Regions from separate parts of the Homo sapiens genome. Here regions 2, 3 and 4 are each linked to region 1. A link means that fine-mapping ties the variant in region 1 to the plasma level of a protein whose gene starts in the linked region. Region 1 holds a variant in brackets. A gene starts in each other region. All regions are shown on their forward strands.

Region 1 (4,157 bases):
ATCTAGTGAGTCCCAGAGTTCCCAGGATGTCCTGGTGGTCTTTGTTAGGGGTCCAGGCTGGCTGGGGTTCATTGGTGTCCACTGGGGGCAGCTCCTGTGCCTTCTGGAGTCTCTGAGTCTCCTTCTGTTGAGTATGAGATCTGGGTCCCCCGTGGGCTAGTGGATGGCCAGGGGGGCGTAGATGCTGGGTTCAGCTGGAGGTTCCCTTTCCTGGGATGGAGGAGGCTCAGTTGCCTCCCGTCTGAGGGTCAAGCTGTGCAGCTGGGCGTAGGTCACATCCTGGGGGGCTTCAGATGCAGCAGCCTGCAGCGGGGGAGAGTGAGAGGGAAGGAACGTGGTGGGGGTGGGGGAGGCCTGGGGGCCTGGAGAGGAAAGGACTCTCTCAGTGTCCATCTGTCTGTCCTCTTCTGCCTGTCTGTCCTTTGTGTCCAGGAATTCCCCAGACAGTGGGGAAGGAGGAGAGGCCATTTCTCTCCTAGGTCTGGAGTGTTTCACCGGGGCATACGTCACTGCCTGGGGGTCTTCATCGTGTGGGCTCTGCTGGAGAGAGACAGTGGTGGGGGGTGTCCTTGAGTCCCCCTGACCTCCTGGAGTCAATTTTCCTCACTGTTCCCGGGGTGATCCGATTACATCCCTTTCCTGATGGAATCTCAGGGACGCCCTAAGGCCGTGGAGGGTCTGGCCGCTCCCTCCCTGTGGTTCTGGCCTCTGCTCCTCACTCTGACCTTGCCCATTTGGCTGCAGCCTCACGGGCCTTCCCGCAAGAGCTCGCTGCTGCCTCGGGGCCTTTGCACGGCTGTTTCCTCTGCCTGCAGGGGCTCGTCCATCAGAGGATCGTGTGCCCCACTCTGTCCAGGCTTCTCAGATGACAGCTGAGCAGACAGCCCTCCCCTTCCATTCAGACTGGCCCCACTGCCCCACACTCTCTGCCCTTTCCCTGGTTTATGTTCCTTACAGCACGTTGCACTCCTGGACACGATGCATTTATTTGCATTTTGTCTCCCACCATGAGGTGAGCTCAGGAGGCGGGGGCGGCTTTGCTCCCTGCTGTGTCTGCAGCTCCCATGGGGAGCCCCATCCACAGTGAGCTCCCTGGGAACACTCGCTGGTTGAATGAATGAAGGGGAGCCTGGGGGACCGGGTCGGTTCATTTATTCCTCATCCTCCTGAGGCCTGGGGAGAGCTCTAACAACCAGACGGCCAAACAGAGGATGAGGAGCAGGAAGGGGACCCGGGAGGAGGCCCACGAGGTCCCAGGACAGCAGAAGAGAGTGAGGTCGCAGCAGGCGGGAGGCAGCGTGCTGGACAAGGAGGGGTCCACCGTGACGATGCTGAGAGCCGGGGGAAGGAGGACAGAGAAGTCCTGCTGGATTAGATCTGGCACCAGGAGGCCTTTGGTGCCCGGGACAGGGGCGGGGCCTCACCGGAGCATCCATCTCCACCCCGTCCTTGGGCTGTGTGTCCTTCACGGCAGCATCTGCTGGGCCAGAGCAAGGGGTTCATCTCCTGGGAAGGTTCTCTGAGACTTCTCCGTCCTGCCAGCCCTTGCCCTGTTCCCACTAGGGTGGCTGAGATCCAGGGAGGGACTGTGATGTCCCTGAGGTCCCACAGTGTGGGTTCAGACCGCCTCCCCCTTGGCCCCAGACCCCCCCCAGCCTGTGCTCCTGCCCCCATTGCTACAGAAACTTTGGTGCTCCCTTGCCCACCCCAGGTGCCCTCCGCTTCTAGTCACTCACTGAGAATTTCCTCCTGGATGTCAGCAACTGGGCTGGCCCTGGGGGAGGACACGGGAGTGTGAGGGGCAGTGAGGGGGCTGTGCGGGTGGATGGGAGTCTTGGGTCTTCATGCAGAATTACCTCTTCTGCAGGCCCTGGTCCTTGGGCTCTGGCCCCGCAGCCCCTGCAGGACGGTAGAAATGGGCTGGACAGAGATGGACAGAGGGTCAGGCCTGGGAGAATTCGAACCAGCTGCCCTGCACACACAACTCGAGCGGAAAGAAGGAAACCTGGAGGCCCACTGGCACTGAGGCTTTAAATACGTCGTAAGTTTAAAGTAAAATCAGAAGAATCAAGCACTTCCACACATGCTCACATTTATTCTCTTCTTTCTCGATCGATTTTTCACCTGGGAATTTCTGGAGCAGTTTTTCTAAGCTGACTTTCCT[T/C]TGTGTTTGGTTTCCCTCTGGCTGGTGCCCCGAGCCCACCCTCGGTCGGCCCACGGGTTCCCCCATTCCCTACTCACCCGATGTCCTGTGTTTGCTCTGATGCCGATGTCGGAGGAGGAGGAAGAGGAGGAGGAACAGCAGCAGGACGAAGGCCACTGAGACCCCAGTCACAACCCCCAGGTGCCTTCCCAGACCTTGAGCGTGATGACGTTGGGAATGGGGATGACGTCATTGATGTGAGCACCTTCTGTGTGCAGGCGCGAGCTAGGTCTTTCCTTCATGAGCTCCAACCCTCACAGCAGTTGTGCAACATGGGATTGCCAACCCCCCAATTCACAGAGGAGCAAACTGAGGCTCAGAGAGGGGAATCGCCTGCCCCAGGCTCCTCAGCCTGGAAGAAGCAGGTCTGGGAAGGGAACCAGGGACTTTGTGTTTTCCCCAGCTGTCCTCCTGCTGCCCCACCAGGTGCACACCTGTTTCCTATTTGACAGGAGGGGCCTGTCCTAGTGTCTCCATCTGGGGCTGGTGTCCTTCTTAGGATCCTCCCTTCCCCAGCACAGCAGGGCCTGGGAGAGGGAGTGGGTTGTGCAGGACGGACCCTGCATTGCTCTCACTCCCAGCTCAGCCAGGTCCGTTTCCCACTCTGCCAAGTTCCCATACTCCCATGCAGAACCTGTCTGGATAGGGGCTCTGTGTGTATCTGGGAAGGGCTGAGGGTAGCAGGAGGACGGTGCCCCTGCCGAGCTGTGTACAGGGCCAGGTCCCATGATTTTGCTTACGCCTCGCAGCAGTTCTGTGAGCTGGATGGGACTGAGCCAGTTTACAGCTGCTGAAACTGAGTCAGAGTAGAAAGTTGACCTGCCTGGGCCCACGGTGGGATGCGGCAGAGCTGGGAAGTGAACCCAGGAGTCTGACCCGCAGCCCTTGTTCTCTGCACCTGAGCGGAGCCCCGGAGCTGCAGGGAAAGAGCCTGAATGCCCCAAACCACGGCCCTGCTCCCCTCCCCTGCCCCAGGTCACCGTCACTGCTGCCGGTGGGACAGGACAGTCCCCTGAAGAATCCCATCAATGCAGGCCTCTCTCCTTTACACTTGGAGAAACTGAGGCCCAGGCAGGGGAAGGGCTTGTGCACTTCACCATCTCCAGAGGAGCCTGAACCTACGACAGAACCCACCCCTGCCTCCCCTGGTCTCCGCCCACCTCCCACTCAGAGCCCCTCACTCACCACTCTGGGGATCCAACCCCGTGGGGGTGAGGGGCTGGTCCTCAGGGCCTGCTGGGTCAGGACGGGGAGGTGAGGGCTGGGGCTGCCCTGCTCCCCACATCAGCCCGGCTGCTCCTCCCCCAGGCTGGGCCCCAACACCCAACATCTCTCTCTGCCTCGACGCCCGCCCCCTCACCGGCCCAGCCTCAGAGCCCCGGGGAGCCTGTGGCCCCTCCTCTGGCTCTGCCCAGCTCCCTGGAGGGAAGCTCCCGCTTGAGTCTTTGAGGGGAATAGGATCCTCGGGGAGACTCAGGGCTGCCTGGGGGGAGACCACGCTCCCTCCGAGCCCAGAGGCCTCAGTGACTCACCAGGTGTGGGGGTGGAGCCTGTAGGTGAGAGGCTGGGATCCCCAGAGGGTCCTGGGAATAAGCACAGAAAGGGAGCGAGGCGCTTTGGTGCTGAGTGAGGAAACCCGTCCCTCCACCTGCCCGTGGCTTCTCTGGAAACTTTCTTCTGCTCACCTTTCACCATTTGCATCCCAGGAGATGGGGCCAAGTGTGGGCATGCCTGGGGAGCCCCCGTTGTCCTCCTCCCCTCTGAGGGGTGAGTCTCCCTCTGGCTGAGCCCCCCTCAAACCCTCCCCCCCGCACCGCGACTCCATCCCAGCCCAGAGCTCTCCTGGGGGCAGGGCCTGAGCTGAGCCTTTGAGCTTGGACAGGACAGGGTCAGGGCCCTCACCTGAGACCACGAGCTCCTGGGGGTAACTAGGGCTGGACAGCAGGTAGGGGTA
Region 2 (4,157 bases), not on the chromosome of region 1:
TCTTTAGATATTGACTCCCATTAGGGATTTAGGTTTTCTTCATGTGGATGATTTTCCCTGGGAGAAAAGGTAGGAACTAAATTTCAGCTTGCCTAGAATGCTTGGTCCTTGATTCTCCCACTTCACATCTCTTACAGATTTGGGTCTCAGTTGTTCTTGTTGCTGACTTCAAAGCTGACATCGATCTCAGTGACGCTGAGCCCACGCTTTGTGGTGGACAGGGTGGGTGTAGGAATTCAGTTGAAGTGTTGAGAGGACAAAAGGACCCTGAGGGAGCAAGAGGAGATGATGGCCCCTAGCTCCACAGCTCCTAACAAAGGCTCTCTCTGGGACCACACTTGAGATTCTGCACCCTCCTTTTGATTAGGCTGGTTCTTGAGCCCTGGCTAAGCCAGCCTGAGCAAAGATCCTGCGAAGTCATCCCTCCCACCTTGATATCTGATCAAGTTCCTCATCCCCACCTTTGATGGGGACTTTGATGTATAAGTCCTTGGCCTGCTTTTAGCAAGAATCCCCCTACCTTGATGTCTTCTCTTAGTAATCCCACTGATCCTCTCTGTTTTCTTTGCCGTATTCAGTGTTAAGCACAGTAAGTCTTTCCTACTGAAATAGCCATGGTCCTAATCATAATAATCTTGAATTAGGTCTTACATTTTAACACAGGTCAGGATAGTTTTTCTTTAACTCTCTCAACTATGACCCTTGGTTGTGTCCACTCCCTTTGAGTGGGTGTGGAAAGCATGTAGACCGTAGGGAGGGTGGGATGGGAAAGGCTGTGGGAACTGGGGCTCCCAGGACAGACTCAAAGGTCCCAGAGCCCCTGAAGGCGTTATGGAGATATGAGTGTCTTCCATTTATTCAGCTGTGACTTGGCGGAAAGGACACCAGACCCACAGTCTAGGAAGTATAAGAAAATCTTATTATTTATTTATTTATTTATTTGAGATGGAGTCTCACTCTGTCGCCCAGGCTGGAGTGCAGTGGTGCGATCTCGGCTCACTGCAAGCTCCGCCTCCCAGGTTCACGCCATTCTCCTGAGTAGCTGGGACTACAGGCGTCCGCCACCACGCCCGGCTAATTTTTTGTATTTTTAGTAGAGACGAGGTTTCACTGTGATAGCCAGGATGGTCTCAATCTCCTGACCTCGTGATCCGCCCACCTCGGCCTCCCAAAGTGCTAGGATTACAGGCATGAGCCACCTCGCCCGGCTGAAAATCTTATTATTGATAAAACCATTAAGCCTTCCCCATAGATCAGACCCCAAGGAACACTGATAATTTATTCAGACTAAAACATCCTTTCTATATCATTTGCCTGATACATTTCTATTTCCTTAGTGGAGTCAGAAGAATTAGGCTTCAGATACATAAAAGAGGCCCCAAACCTCTTTCCTCATCCTGACCTGCCCTGGTGAAATTCTCTGGCAGGGCTTGTCAAGCATGTGGTCTTGGAGCCAGCTCAGTCTTGCTTTGATAGTCTTAACTTTTTTATTATTATTCTAGAGGTAATTCTATGCCAGGTTTATAATCTGACCTCTCCTATCAGGATAAATTCCATCCAACACTGTGGAATTAGCTTATTCACTGAAAAAACACTATTTAAATGCCAAGTGATGAGCAATATGGTACCCTTGGCACAGACTTTTTCAGCTCCTGGAGCAAGTTCCTGACCTTGTAAATTGAGATGCTCAACCTTTATCACTTGAAAGGAATGGGAGAGGCATTGGTAGGGCCTGCCTGTCACAGTCAGAGTTGCAAGGGTGCTTGGGAATCACATTAGCATTTTTGAGGACTTGAGTCACTCTCAGACTCTTTATAAATACAGCTTGACTCAGCCACTGTATGACTGACTCCCCGGGGACATGAGGTGGATACTGTTCATTGGGGCCCTTATTGGGTCCAGCATCTGTGGCCAAGAAAAATTTTTTGGGTAAGTTCCTTTTGGACTTATTATTTGGTTATTTCAGAAATATGGGAGCCAAATGGAACTGAAAATGAATGGCTGATAATAGCTCACATGGAGGAAGAAGACCTGGGCTCTTGTTCCAGCTTTGCCCCTGTGTCATCCTGGACAAGTCCACTCTCTTCTCTGAGACCCCATTTCATCTGTGAAATCAGGACTAGATGATCATTGCAGTCTCTCCCCAGCTCCCTCATCTCCTGCCAGTTCTTTTTCTGCCTAGTTCTTACTTATAAGGTCAGTTCCAGGCATCTACTTTCTTACTCCTACCTTATTAATTACTAAGAGTTACTGGTTACTAAGAGCTACGTTATTAATTACTAAGAGTTACTGGTTACCAGAAATGGTTTGTTTCCAATTTCCGCCATGCATAAAGGGAAACCCTGGGTCTCAAGCTTGTTGGTTTCACTTCTTTGTTAATGGCGAAGGCTTTGCAGAGCTGGTGCCTTCTCTTGATCTGCAGTTTAATGCTCTACCCCTGAGCTACACCCTCTTCTGAGCTGGTGCTTTCTTACTGGCTTCTGGGACGTGGAGATTTCACAGGTCTTGCCTAGACACAGCTATGAAAATGACATGCAGAGACACATGCCTGAACACCGTGTGTGTGTGCGCGTGTGTGTGTGCACACACACACGTGCTCAACACGCTCCATGCAGAATACTTTGAGGTTTGCAGGGGAGAGGACATTTGGGTGGTAGGAGAGATAAAAGGGATACCATGGTGCCCTGTTAGAAGACTGAATTATAATAACTCATTACTGCATAATACTTTACCATTTGCAAAGAGCTTTCATGTACATTATCTTTTTGATCACACAACAACTTTGCCAGGCAGGGGTGTTATTTTCTTCCACTTAAACATGAAAAAAATCAGCCTTAGAATGTTAAGGAACGCGCTCAAGGCCACTTAGCTGGGAAGCAGGGGAGCTGGAACTCTGAACGTAAAACTCGTACCCTTTTGCTATAACACAAGTTCATCTCCAAATAAAATCCTATATCTCTTGGATCTGTCTCTTAGTTTTCTTTCTATTTTACTATCTGGCTAATGAGACTTTGGGGTTGTTTTTTGAGGTAATTACTTATATGAGATTGACTAAGTTTTATGATGATGACTTCTGTTCACACCTGTGTCTCTGTTGCCAAATAGCTCAGAGGGGTTAGGAGTGGCAGGTGGCCAGGGAAGATTTTCCCACAGGCGGCTCAGCAGTAGGTGTGTAGTGACTAGACTTGCTGCCGTGTGGGCTGACGCATGGAACTGTCAGGCTCCCACTGCAGCTATTCATGTGGCTGAAAAATCTCTATTTCGCAAGATACAGACCTCTCTTGCAATGTGGTGGGCACCTGGGCTGCGACAGCTGGGCCAGGCCCTAGAATGCTCTCTGCAGGAATTTTGCACAGAAAAAGCTGTGTGCCTGAGCTGACTGCAGATGGTTTGAACTGATAGTGTCATTCTCATCCCCAAATCCATTCTCACGCCATAGTAGGAAACCTAGCAAAGGTAGTGGAATTCTTCCTGGGCTCTCTAGAGGTGTCCCAGACACCCAGCTTTTAGAGCAAGGGGAACATTTAGAGCAAGGGGAAGCTGGCCTCTGAGCATTCAAGTGGTTGGGAAGCCAGGCTCTGGATTGGCTGCTGAAGATGAGGATGATGGTTTCTCCCCACCACCCACCACCCATTCCCCTCCCTTCCATCTGCCTCACCTATCTCCCCAGTCTCTCTTGCTCTACTGGAGTCTTCTGCCCTGGTCTTCAGAGATCTTCAGGATGGGACAATGGCCAGGATGCCTAGAGGCACCAGGCAGGCAGAGAACAGGAACCAGTTGCAGAGCTGGTTACAGCATCAACAGTAGCTGGCAGGCATCTAAGAGTTCTATGAAACCATCTCTTAATATTCTTTGTGGTGGCTGCTAAGCCTGGCTAGGGAGGCAGATGAGAAAGGCACAAAGGACGGGCCACTTGGCTGTCAGCATGGTGAAAGGGGAGGGATAGATGCTCAGTCACCAAAGTGGGTATTGACTGTCCAAAGCACAGACTCCTGTGAGGGTGAGGGAGTGGGAGTGCCAGCCATTGCAATGGCAGCAGCTGGACGCCCTGTCTATTGGAGAGGATCAAGTTAAGAGGAGCTGTGAGAACACCTGTGTGGAGCAGGAGGGGCAGACATGGCCACCTGTGAATCCCAACACGTCCCCCTCCCAGGCCA
Region 3 (4,157 bases), not on the chromosome of region 1:
AGCCCTCGCACCGCCACTTCCTGCTCCTCCCCCCCCCCGCCCCGCTAGATTTTTATTTGCAAAGGACGGTAGGGGCGGGGCCTACTCCCCATTCCCTCCCTCCCCCACTCGCCAGCCCAGACACCGAACTTTGCAAATGCAATTTTAAAAATCCCTCCCCCTATTGCAAAATTTGCAGAGTTCGATGGAAAGCAATGCAGAAGGATGGGGGGTGGCGGGAGAGAGGTGAAGGGTAGGGTTTGCTCCAATTTGCACTGAATATAAACCAGACTTTGGTATCGGGGCAGGGAGTGAGCCAGAAGAAGGAAGGAAGGAGAAAGCAGGAGGAATTAGCAAGCTGCAAATTTAGCAAATTAAGGAGAGTTCGGGGAGCCCAGGGTTAAACGGGATGACTCCTCCTTCCCCCACCTCCGCCGAAGGGAAGGACCGGCGGGCGGCGGCGCGTGTGCCCGCGCCTGCGCCTGCGCCGGGGCCGGGAGTGCATGGGGCGGTCGGGGCCGGAGCCGGCTGCACGGGAGCGCGCCCGGCCCGACCCGTGTGGACCCTGCGGGAAAGGAAGGCGGGCTGGGGACGTGTCTCCCGCCTGGCGGAAGGGGCGGGGGCGAAGCCGTGCGCGCTGCCGCCTCACCACCCTTGATTTTACTTATTCAAGTAATAAGAAAGCAAAGAAGAGTTTGGCCAAATCCTCTAGTCGCTCTCATAGCTGAAGGCACCCACCGGGGCCACTTCTGTCCCCAGCGTCTTCTCGGGTCGTGCAGGTTGGGTTCACCAGGGCCCATTCTCAGTCTAGAGGATTGTCCCTTCTCTGGATCGGCTCTAGCCCAGGGCCTCACCCCACATCCCAGCCCCGCCCGCCCCAGGCAGGCAATGTCTGGATCACCGGCCGTGCCCCTTGGCCTGTGTCTGCAGAGGTCACAGAGCGCGGACACCCGCGGGGCTTAACAGGCGGGGCTATTTTTCGAGGCGGAAGAATACTCAAGTTGCAAGAGTGGCAACTTTTTCAAGAAGGGGAAAGTCCCACTTCGGGCCCTTTGGGTTTCTTCGCAGTCAGATGTGCGCTCACAGCCACCTGGGGAGGGCGGGACGGGCGGGACGGCCGTGCGGCGGCCGCGGTGAAACCGCCTCCTCCGACCCGCCGCCGAGGGCTGGGCGGCTTCCGGAGCCTGGGCTAGGGGCAAGGGGTCACCGAGCGCGGCCCGGGCGGAAAGGGGGTTGGTTTTCTCTCTCCTCCCGAGCGCGGCGCGCATCCCTGGCGTCCACGCCGAATCCCACAGTCCCCGACGCCCCTCGAGTCCGTGTTCCTCGACAGCCGCGCGGCTGAGTCACTGGCGGGCTCGGGCGGGGCCGCACCCGGGCACGTGGCGGCGCTCCCCGCCCGCCATCTCCTGACCCCTGGCCCACCGCACCCCTACCCCAGGGTGGAAAAATCCCGGGAGGAGCGGCCTGAGATGAGGGGGCGGGGCGAGAGGGGAGACTGGACGGGTGGCGGGGCAGGTGGCCTGGGGTGGGGGCTGGGAGGCCGCGCGGGCCGGCGGGGCGGGGAGCAGGGGTGGGGAGAGGGCGGCGGGGGTGAGTCACCGGGCGCGCGCTGCCCCGGCGCCGACGGGAAGGGCCTCCGAGTCGGGCCGAGGCGCCGTGTGTCCCCCGCCGGTCGGCTGGTATGGCTGCAGAGGAGCTCGGGGCAGACCCCGCACTGGCCCCAGAGCCGGCAAAGTGGAGATCTCTACCGAGGGCAGAGACCTACCTCCCCGCAGTGCTACAAGTGGGGCGCCGGAAGAGCCCCAGGCGTGCAGAAGCTCACAAAAGGCCACCCGTCCTCGGTCCATTCATTTTTGTTCACTGTTGATTCAGCCCCATTCATTGATGGGCTGGGGCCGTGCGCTGAGCGCCCACAGTCGATGGGGAAAGGGGCTCTGACCGACAGTCCCCACGCCGGGCGACAAGTGCTGTCCCAGCGTTATCAGTCGGGCGCCTTGCCAGCCGAAAGGGCCTGTCTAAATTCGTTTCCTGTCCCCTAACTCATCCCGGCGCTGGCTGGCCTGGAGAGGGTAGGATGGGGCGGCGCCGAGAATGGCCGTTATGAGGACCCTAAGAGGTGAGACCCTCTCGCCTTCTGGGGTGGGGGGTCCCGTCCTTTCCCCCACTGAGGACAGAGGCCCGCCCAGCGATCTGAGCATGTGTGGACGTCAATCTTGCAGCCCCTCTTCCAGGCCCCCTCCCCAGCCTTGCAGGGCTCAGGTTACCCCTGGCCTTTCCTAAAGGTCACTCATTCCTCTTGACGTTTGCAAAAGGGGAATGTAATCCTGGGGTGGGGGGAGACCCCTCATCTGTAGCCCCTCCCTTGCTCCTCCCAAAGGGTGGAATTAGAACAGGGACTGTTATTGGGAGACAGAAAGTGGGGGATAGTAGTTGACCTTTGGTAAGGGGGCAGGTGCCCAGGGCCAGAGGCTTCTGCTTCAGGCTGTAGTGGGCACTTGGCTGCCAGCCCAGTGTGAAGGGGGGAGGATGGAGAGAAAGAGAGGCGGGGCTGGCTGGGGACCGAGTGGCTCAGGGATAAATGCGCAGCCTGAGAGGGGGTGAGCTGACACTGTCCCAGCTGCCACCTAGACTCGGAGCTCCATCCAAACCTCCAGCGAAGACATCCCAGGTCGGGTGAATCTTCCAGCCCTGGGGGTGGAGGTAGTAAAGGGTGAGCATGGTATTGGCTTGGAGGAAGTGGGGGACATTTCTGCTTTTTTTCCTCCTGGGACTGGAGATGCTTGAAAAAGCTGGGGGAAGGGGCGGCTGGAGCAAGCAGATGGGACAAACTCTGGGAACACCGAAGGATCTAGGGAAAGGAGGCTGTGAGGAGGGCAGCAGGGATGGATAGAAAAGGGCAGCTAGAGCTGGAACCTGATAGGGAATTGGGGGCCCAAGGAGATTTCGGAGCAGGAAAATGAGAACCAGAAAGGATTTGAAGGCCACCAGCCATGGAGAACAGACTGCTTGACCAGAGGGGTGGAAGGAGAAGGCCTAAGTGGAGGCTTGGGGGAGGTGGGGGCTTGGTGAGCGGTGGCATCCCAGGAGCTATAGATAAGAGGCCCCTGGATTCTTAGGATGGGAGGGTGGAATAAGAGCTGTTCTGAGTGGGGGAGGGGGCTGCGCCTGCCTCTTTGGTCTGTGACCTTTTTGTAGGGTATTTTTAGCTCCAGCACCTGCCTTCTTGGAGTGGGGAAGAATCTTAAAGGGCAAGGGATTTCTGGTTCCTTAAGAGATCAACTGTCTACACTCACTCACACCTCCTGTCCTGCAGCCATGGCCATGCAGAAAATCTTTGCCCGGGAAATCTTGGACTCCAGGGGCAACCCCACGGTGGAGGTGGACCTGCACACGGCCAAGGGTAACACAAGGCCCATTGGATAGGCTCGCCTCCGAAGACCCCAACCCTTTGGCCTTTGCCCCCCAGTTCTGTGCCATATCCTCTCCTTTCTCTCGGGTTCCCTTTCCCAGACTTCTTCCCAAGCCCCCTTCTTCCAACGTGGAACCAGAGCTGGAAGCTAGGAGAAGCAGGAGTCTCTCTCTGCACTGCCTCCTGTCCCTGAGCTCAGAGAGGACACCTCAGCCCTTTGAGAGGTAGAGAGACTCCCTGTGAGGTCCTTTTTTTTGTTTTGTTTTGTTTTGAGATGGAGTCTCGCTCTGTGGCCCGGGCTGGAGTGCAGTGGTGCAATCTCAGCTCACTGCAACCTCTGCCTCCCGGGTTTAAGTGATTCTTGTGCCTCAGCCTCCCAAGTAGCTGGGATTACAGGCCTGTGCCATCACGCCCAGCTAATTTTTTTTTTTTTTTTTTGAGATGGAGTCTCACTCTGTCGCCCAGGCTGGAGTGCAGTGGCGCGATCTAGGCTCACTGCAAGCTCCGCCTCCCGGGTTCACGCCATTCTCCTGCCTCAGCCTCCCGAGTAGCTGGGACTACAGCTAATTTTTTGTATTTTTAGTAGAGATGGGGTTTCACGGTGTCAGCCAGGATTGTCTCGATCTCCTGATCTCGTGATCCGCCCGCCTTGGCCTCCCAAAGTGCTGGGATTACAGGCGTGAGCCACCGCGCCCGGCCTCAGCTAATTTTTGTATTTTTAGCAGAGACGGTTTCGCCATGTTAGCCAGGCTGGTCTTGAACTCCTGAT
Region 4 (4,157 bases), not on the chromosome of region 1:
AGAATCAACGGGGTTAAGGCAGTGATTACAATTAGAAGCCTTAGAACCTGAGGTGAGGAGGAAGGGCAATGAGGACCCGAGGGATGTTGATGGAAGATGCAAAAGTGAGAGGGTCGAGAGACTGAAGGTACCTGAGGAGTCAGGGAAGTGCTGAAGTGGAGAAGCTAGAGAGGGGAACAGAACTGGAATGACAGGAGGAGGTCAGCAGATAAAGGGAAACTTGAAATCAAGATTTTGGAAGTTGTGCGTTATTTTGTTAATGACACAGTCTAAAGCATGAACAGAGGAGTGGGATGCTGAGATGTAAGAAGACAAATCTTTTTGGAAATGAGGAGTTGAGAAAATTGAAAGGCCCAGATGTTGGATGAATTGTCTGTGCGGATGCTGAAGCCACTGAGAATAACAACAGAAGCAGTGATGAGAAGAAAACAGTGAGCCAGGAGCTGAAGAGCTGTAAGGAGCGCAATAAGAAGAATGGCAGGTGGCAGATGATCTTCCAAGGCGCTGGGAAGTCTTAGAAAGAAGAAGAAACTAAAATCTAGAGATAATGGAAAGCAGAGAGGTCACTTCCTCCATTTCCAGGCCCAGAGGAAGTTGAATTTAGGAAAAAAAAAAAAAAAACCACAATCACTGCTTGACAAGGATATAAGGAATGCTGTCCCTTCAGGAGAGAACCTGAAGTTTCCAGTAAAAAAGATGAAAAAGGAAACGTCTGGCTGGGCACAGTGGCTCATGACTGTAATCCCAACACTTTGGAAGGCCAATGCAGGAGGATCACTTGAGGCCTAGAGTTTGAGACCAGCTTGGGAAACACAGAGAGACCACATCTCTACAAGTAACTTAAAAATTAGGCCAGGCGCGGTGGCTCACGCCTGTAATTCCAGCACTTTGAGAGGCCGAGGCAGGTGGATCACCTGAGATCAGGAGTTCGAAACCAGCCTGGCCAACATAGTGAAACCCCGTCTCTACTAAAAATACAAAAATTATCCAGGCATGGTGGCGGTTGCCTGTAATCCCAGCTACTCATGAGGCTGAGGTAAGAGAACCACTTGAACCCAGGAGGCAGAGGTTGCAGTGAGCCAAGATCGCACCATTGCACTCCAGCCTCGGTGACAGAGTGAGACTCTGTCACAAAAAAAGAAAAAATTAGCCAGGCAGTGTGGCATGCGCCTGTGGTCCCAGCTACTTGTGAGGCTGGGGCAGGAGGATTGCCTGAGCCCGGAAGGTCAAGGATGCAATGAGCTGTGATCGCACAGTGGCCTGGGCAACAGAGTGAGAAACCCTGTCTCAAAAAAAAGTCTGAGAAGTTGGAAGTTGTAGGGGATTTTGCAGATGAAAGACCATGAGTTTCAGAGACTCACTGTGTTCAAGGAGTCCATATTCACACACTTCAACGTGCCTGTGGATTTTCAGAAAGGATGTAAAACAAACTGTCAACAGCCAGAATGACCAGGCCTCTTCGAGGCCAGAGTCGATGAAATTTAAGACCTGACTCCAGCCTGTGAGTGCGAGAGAAGGAATGACTCTTACACCCTAGTAAGGGGATGCCCATAGCGGGTAGGGAGTCTTCACAGATGCACCCACAGACCCCCTACACTGAGGTCTATGACTCCATGAATTTGGCTGTGTTTTCATTTTTGATAAGCCCCTTTCCACTGCTAGGCCTCAGTTTCCATATATGTGAAGTGAGGAATGCGGACTGTGTTTTCTCTTGGCCTCCTTCCAGCTCTGACAGTCTGTGAATCTCCTGGAAGCCAGCTCTGGGTCCAGTCCTGTCTTGGGGAAATTAGACCAGAAAGGCACAGAGCATACACAAGAACCCAACAGCATCTTCTGACACAAGACCATACTCCCACTGGCACATAGTATCTTTGCTTACCTAATTATATGCATGGACACACAAACACACACATGTACACACCAGGCAAGAAAACTCACAACCGGGTCAGGCGCAGTGGCTTGCGCCTGTAACCACAGCACTTTGGGAGGCCGAGGCGGGTGGATCACCTGAGGTCAGGAGTTCGAGACCAGCCTGGCCAACCTGGTGAAACCCTGTCTCTACTAAAAATACAGAAATAGGCTCGGCGTGGTGGCACACACCTGTAATCCCAGCTACTCAGGAGGCTGAGGCAGGAGAATCACTTGAACCCCGGAGATGGAGGTTGCAGTGAGCCAAGATCACACCACTGCACTCCGGCCTGGGCAACAGAGTGAGACTTTGTCTCGAAAAAACAAAAGAAAACCTGCAACCATTGACACATGCAGCCACCCACACCCTTTCTTGTGGTCACCTCACCGTACTCGGCACCATCACGTCCTAAACACAGTGTCCCATAATCATCATCTCACAAAATCTCAGTCCCAGACTTCTGCCTACCTTGAGCAGATGGGGCAACTGCTGGGTAACCAGCTCTTTGAACTCGTTGACGCTGAGGCTATCCTTCCGGCCCTCCTGCCTTGCAAAGGTGAAGAAGGTGGTGACCACGGTCTCAATGGACTCCTCTAGCTCTGTCAGTGGTTCTGCTGCCATTAGGACCCTGAGGCCAAAGCTGATGTCCTCAAGGGGCTAGCTGACCTTTGTCAGGGCTGACCTGTGGAAGAGAGAAGGAGCAGAGAGGGAGAGTCAGGGAGCCCCAAGATGCAGGAATGGTTCAGAAGGTCCCTGCCTTGGTGTTATCACATCAGTCTCAGCCTGGAGGGGGCATATGGGGAAAGAGGGAGAGGACAGGGGTTGAGCTTGGGGCAGCAGACCAGGCAACGGCATCTCAGTTTTGGTGGGGGCAGGAGATTCAGCTCCAGAAACCCCCTCTTCTGTAGGTCTCACAATCCGGGATCCTTTTTAAATGTCTGTGGCTTAGGGACCCCTCTGTGGTGATCCCTCGATCTGGAGACCCCTCTACTTGAGAGGAGGTCTTCAGTTGAAGGTCCTTCTTGGAGTCCTTCAAGTCTGGTGGCCCCTCTGTGGCGTGTCTGTCTCAAGAATCCCTTCTTGTCTCACCCAGACTCACAGGTCATAAGGTTGTTTGTCTCCAAAGCTTGTTTATGTTGGGCCCTGGTCTCCGGCCACTCGCATCCGCCCACACACACTCTAACCGCTCCTCCCAGCAGAGAAGCACAGGGTCTGGCAAATGTCCCCTGTGGTCAGAGCTGGCTCCGTCTGAACAGACCCATTTTCTCTGCCCCGCTCCACCCTTACCTCTCCTCAGCGGCAGCAGGGCAGAGTGCTGAACCCAGGACCCCACAGATCCTCCCCGCTCCTGTCTCCCGGTGACAAGGGTCCTGGAACGGGGCGTCTCTGACTCCCTGCTCCAGGACGGGTTTAGTACAGGCACTCACAACCCCCTGGGGTGCGGCGGGTGGGGCTGGAAGAGGCATTCTCTTTTCTGTCCACCCCGTCACACACTCCTGCACGCGCTGTTGCTCGATCATCCAAAGCTCCTTCCTGAATTCCTGTCTGAGCTGGCTCTGGGGGAGGGACCTGGGAGCCCAGGAAGAAAAAATGATCTCCAGCCTCCCTCCAGGGTCAGCCATGAGACTCACCCGGCAAGGAGATGGGGTAGAGTGAGCTGGAGCCTCAGGGCTGAGGTTTATAAGCAGCGGGGAAGGAGGAGAGAGCTGCTTCCAAGCCCGGAGGTGTCAAATTTCCGTGGTCGATTCTGAAGACCAGAGACAGCCCAATCAGGCCGCTTGCCCTGAGCCCTCAGGTCTGGACCCGGGCTCCCTGCCAGCCACACGAGCGCCCCCACTTGGTCAGGGAGAGGAGCTGCCTGGACAGATCTCGTTCGGCAGGGGTCCCAGGGTCCTAGTCCTCTCAATACTGGGGGCTGCTGCCACCATACCCATGTCTAATCAGGAGTGTGTATGCTGAGGGGGGAAGAGGGAGGCAACCAATCAAGGGAGCTCAACACTGAGAGGCCCAATCTGAGACACACACAGAGGCCCCTTGGAATGAGATCCCACAAAGGATGCTACAGACCAAGATCCCTCAGAGAACCCCAGGCTGAGGCCCCACACACAGAGGGGGATCCAGGTTGAGACCCCCAGAGAAGAGTCCTGGATTGAAATCCCTCTGTGGGTTCTCAGACTCCCAAGACTAAGTTTCTCACTGAGGGTCCTCTCAGTGAGGCCCCATGGAGGAGCCACAGACTAAGACCCCC

Direction of the effects. Positions count from the first base shown, and alleles are read on the strand shown. Strength reflects both the effect of a copy and how common the allele is.
As copies of T replace C in region 1, the plasma level of the protein whose gene starts at base 1,842 in region 2 goes down (strong association).
For the plasma level of the protein whose gene starts at base 2,584 in region 3, allele T in region 1 goes with a lower level than allele C (moderate association).
For the plasma level of the protein whose gene starts at base 3,563 in region 4, C is the high allele of the variant in region 1 and T is the other (strong association).

Evidence for each region. PIP is the posterior inclusion probability: the model's chance that the variant is causal. Protein levels are from antibody-based Olink assays in UK Biobank. Linkage for the fine-mapping came from a reference panel and not from the study's own genotypes, which makes the PIPs less certain.
Region 2: CPA4 starts here. The variant in region 1 is fine-mapped to the plasma level of the CPA4 protein (UK Biobank, PIP above 0.99).
Region 3: it holds the start of ENO3, and the variant in region 1 is fine-mapped to the plasma level of the ENO3 protein (UK Biobank, PIP above 0.99).
Region 4: S100A13 starts here. The variant in region 1 is fine-mapped to the plasma level of the S100A13 protein (UK Biobank, PIP above 0.99).

Annotation. Positions count from the first base shown.
Region 1 is chr19:54,250,630-54,254,786 of GRCh38, forward strand. It overlaps LILRB5 (leukocyte immunoglobulin like receptor B5), which reads right to left. Exons shown (of 13, transcript NM_001081442.3): 6 at 4,106-4,157; 7 at 3,736-3,786; 8 at 3,389-3,439; 9 at 2,242-2,358; 10 at 1,857-1,920; 11 at 1,737-1,774; 12 at 1,425-1,477; 13 at 1-303. The coding sequence ends at 157. Among named protein-coding and RNA genes, the nearest start is that of LILRB5, 4.6 kb to the right of the region's middle. RefSeq lists an enhancer at 865-1,482. The variant T/C (reference allele first, on the strand shown) is at 2,165.
Region 2 is chr7:130,291,320-130,295,476 of GRCh38, forward strand. CPA4 (carboxypeptidase A4) reads left to right here and starts at 1,842. Exons shown (of 11, transcript NM_016352.4): 1 at 1,842-1,929. The coding sequence starts at 1,862. RefSeq lists an enhancer at 2,247-2,336.
Region 3 is chr17:4,948,536-4,952,692 of GRCh38, forward strand. It overlaps ENO3 (enolase 3), which reads left to right and starts at 2,584. Exons shown (of 12, transcript NM_053013.4): 1 at 2,584-2,647; 2 at 3,293-3,379. The coding sequence starts at 3,295. RefSeq lists silencers at 1-204, 335-584, 1,045-1,454, 1,505-1,734 and enhancers at 785-954, 3,116-3,850.
Region 4 is chr1:153,623,943-153,628,099 of GRCh38, forward strand. It overlaps S100A13 (S100 calcium binding protein A13), which reads right to left and starts at 3,563. Exons shown (of 3, transcript NM_001024211.2): 1 at 3,541-3,563; 2 at 2,378-2,591. The coding sequence starts at 2,530. RefSeq lists an enhancer at 2,985-3,810.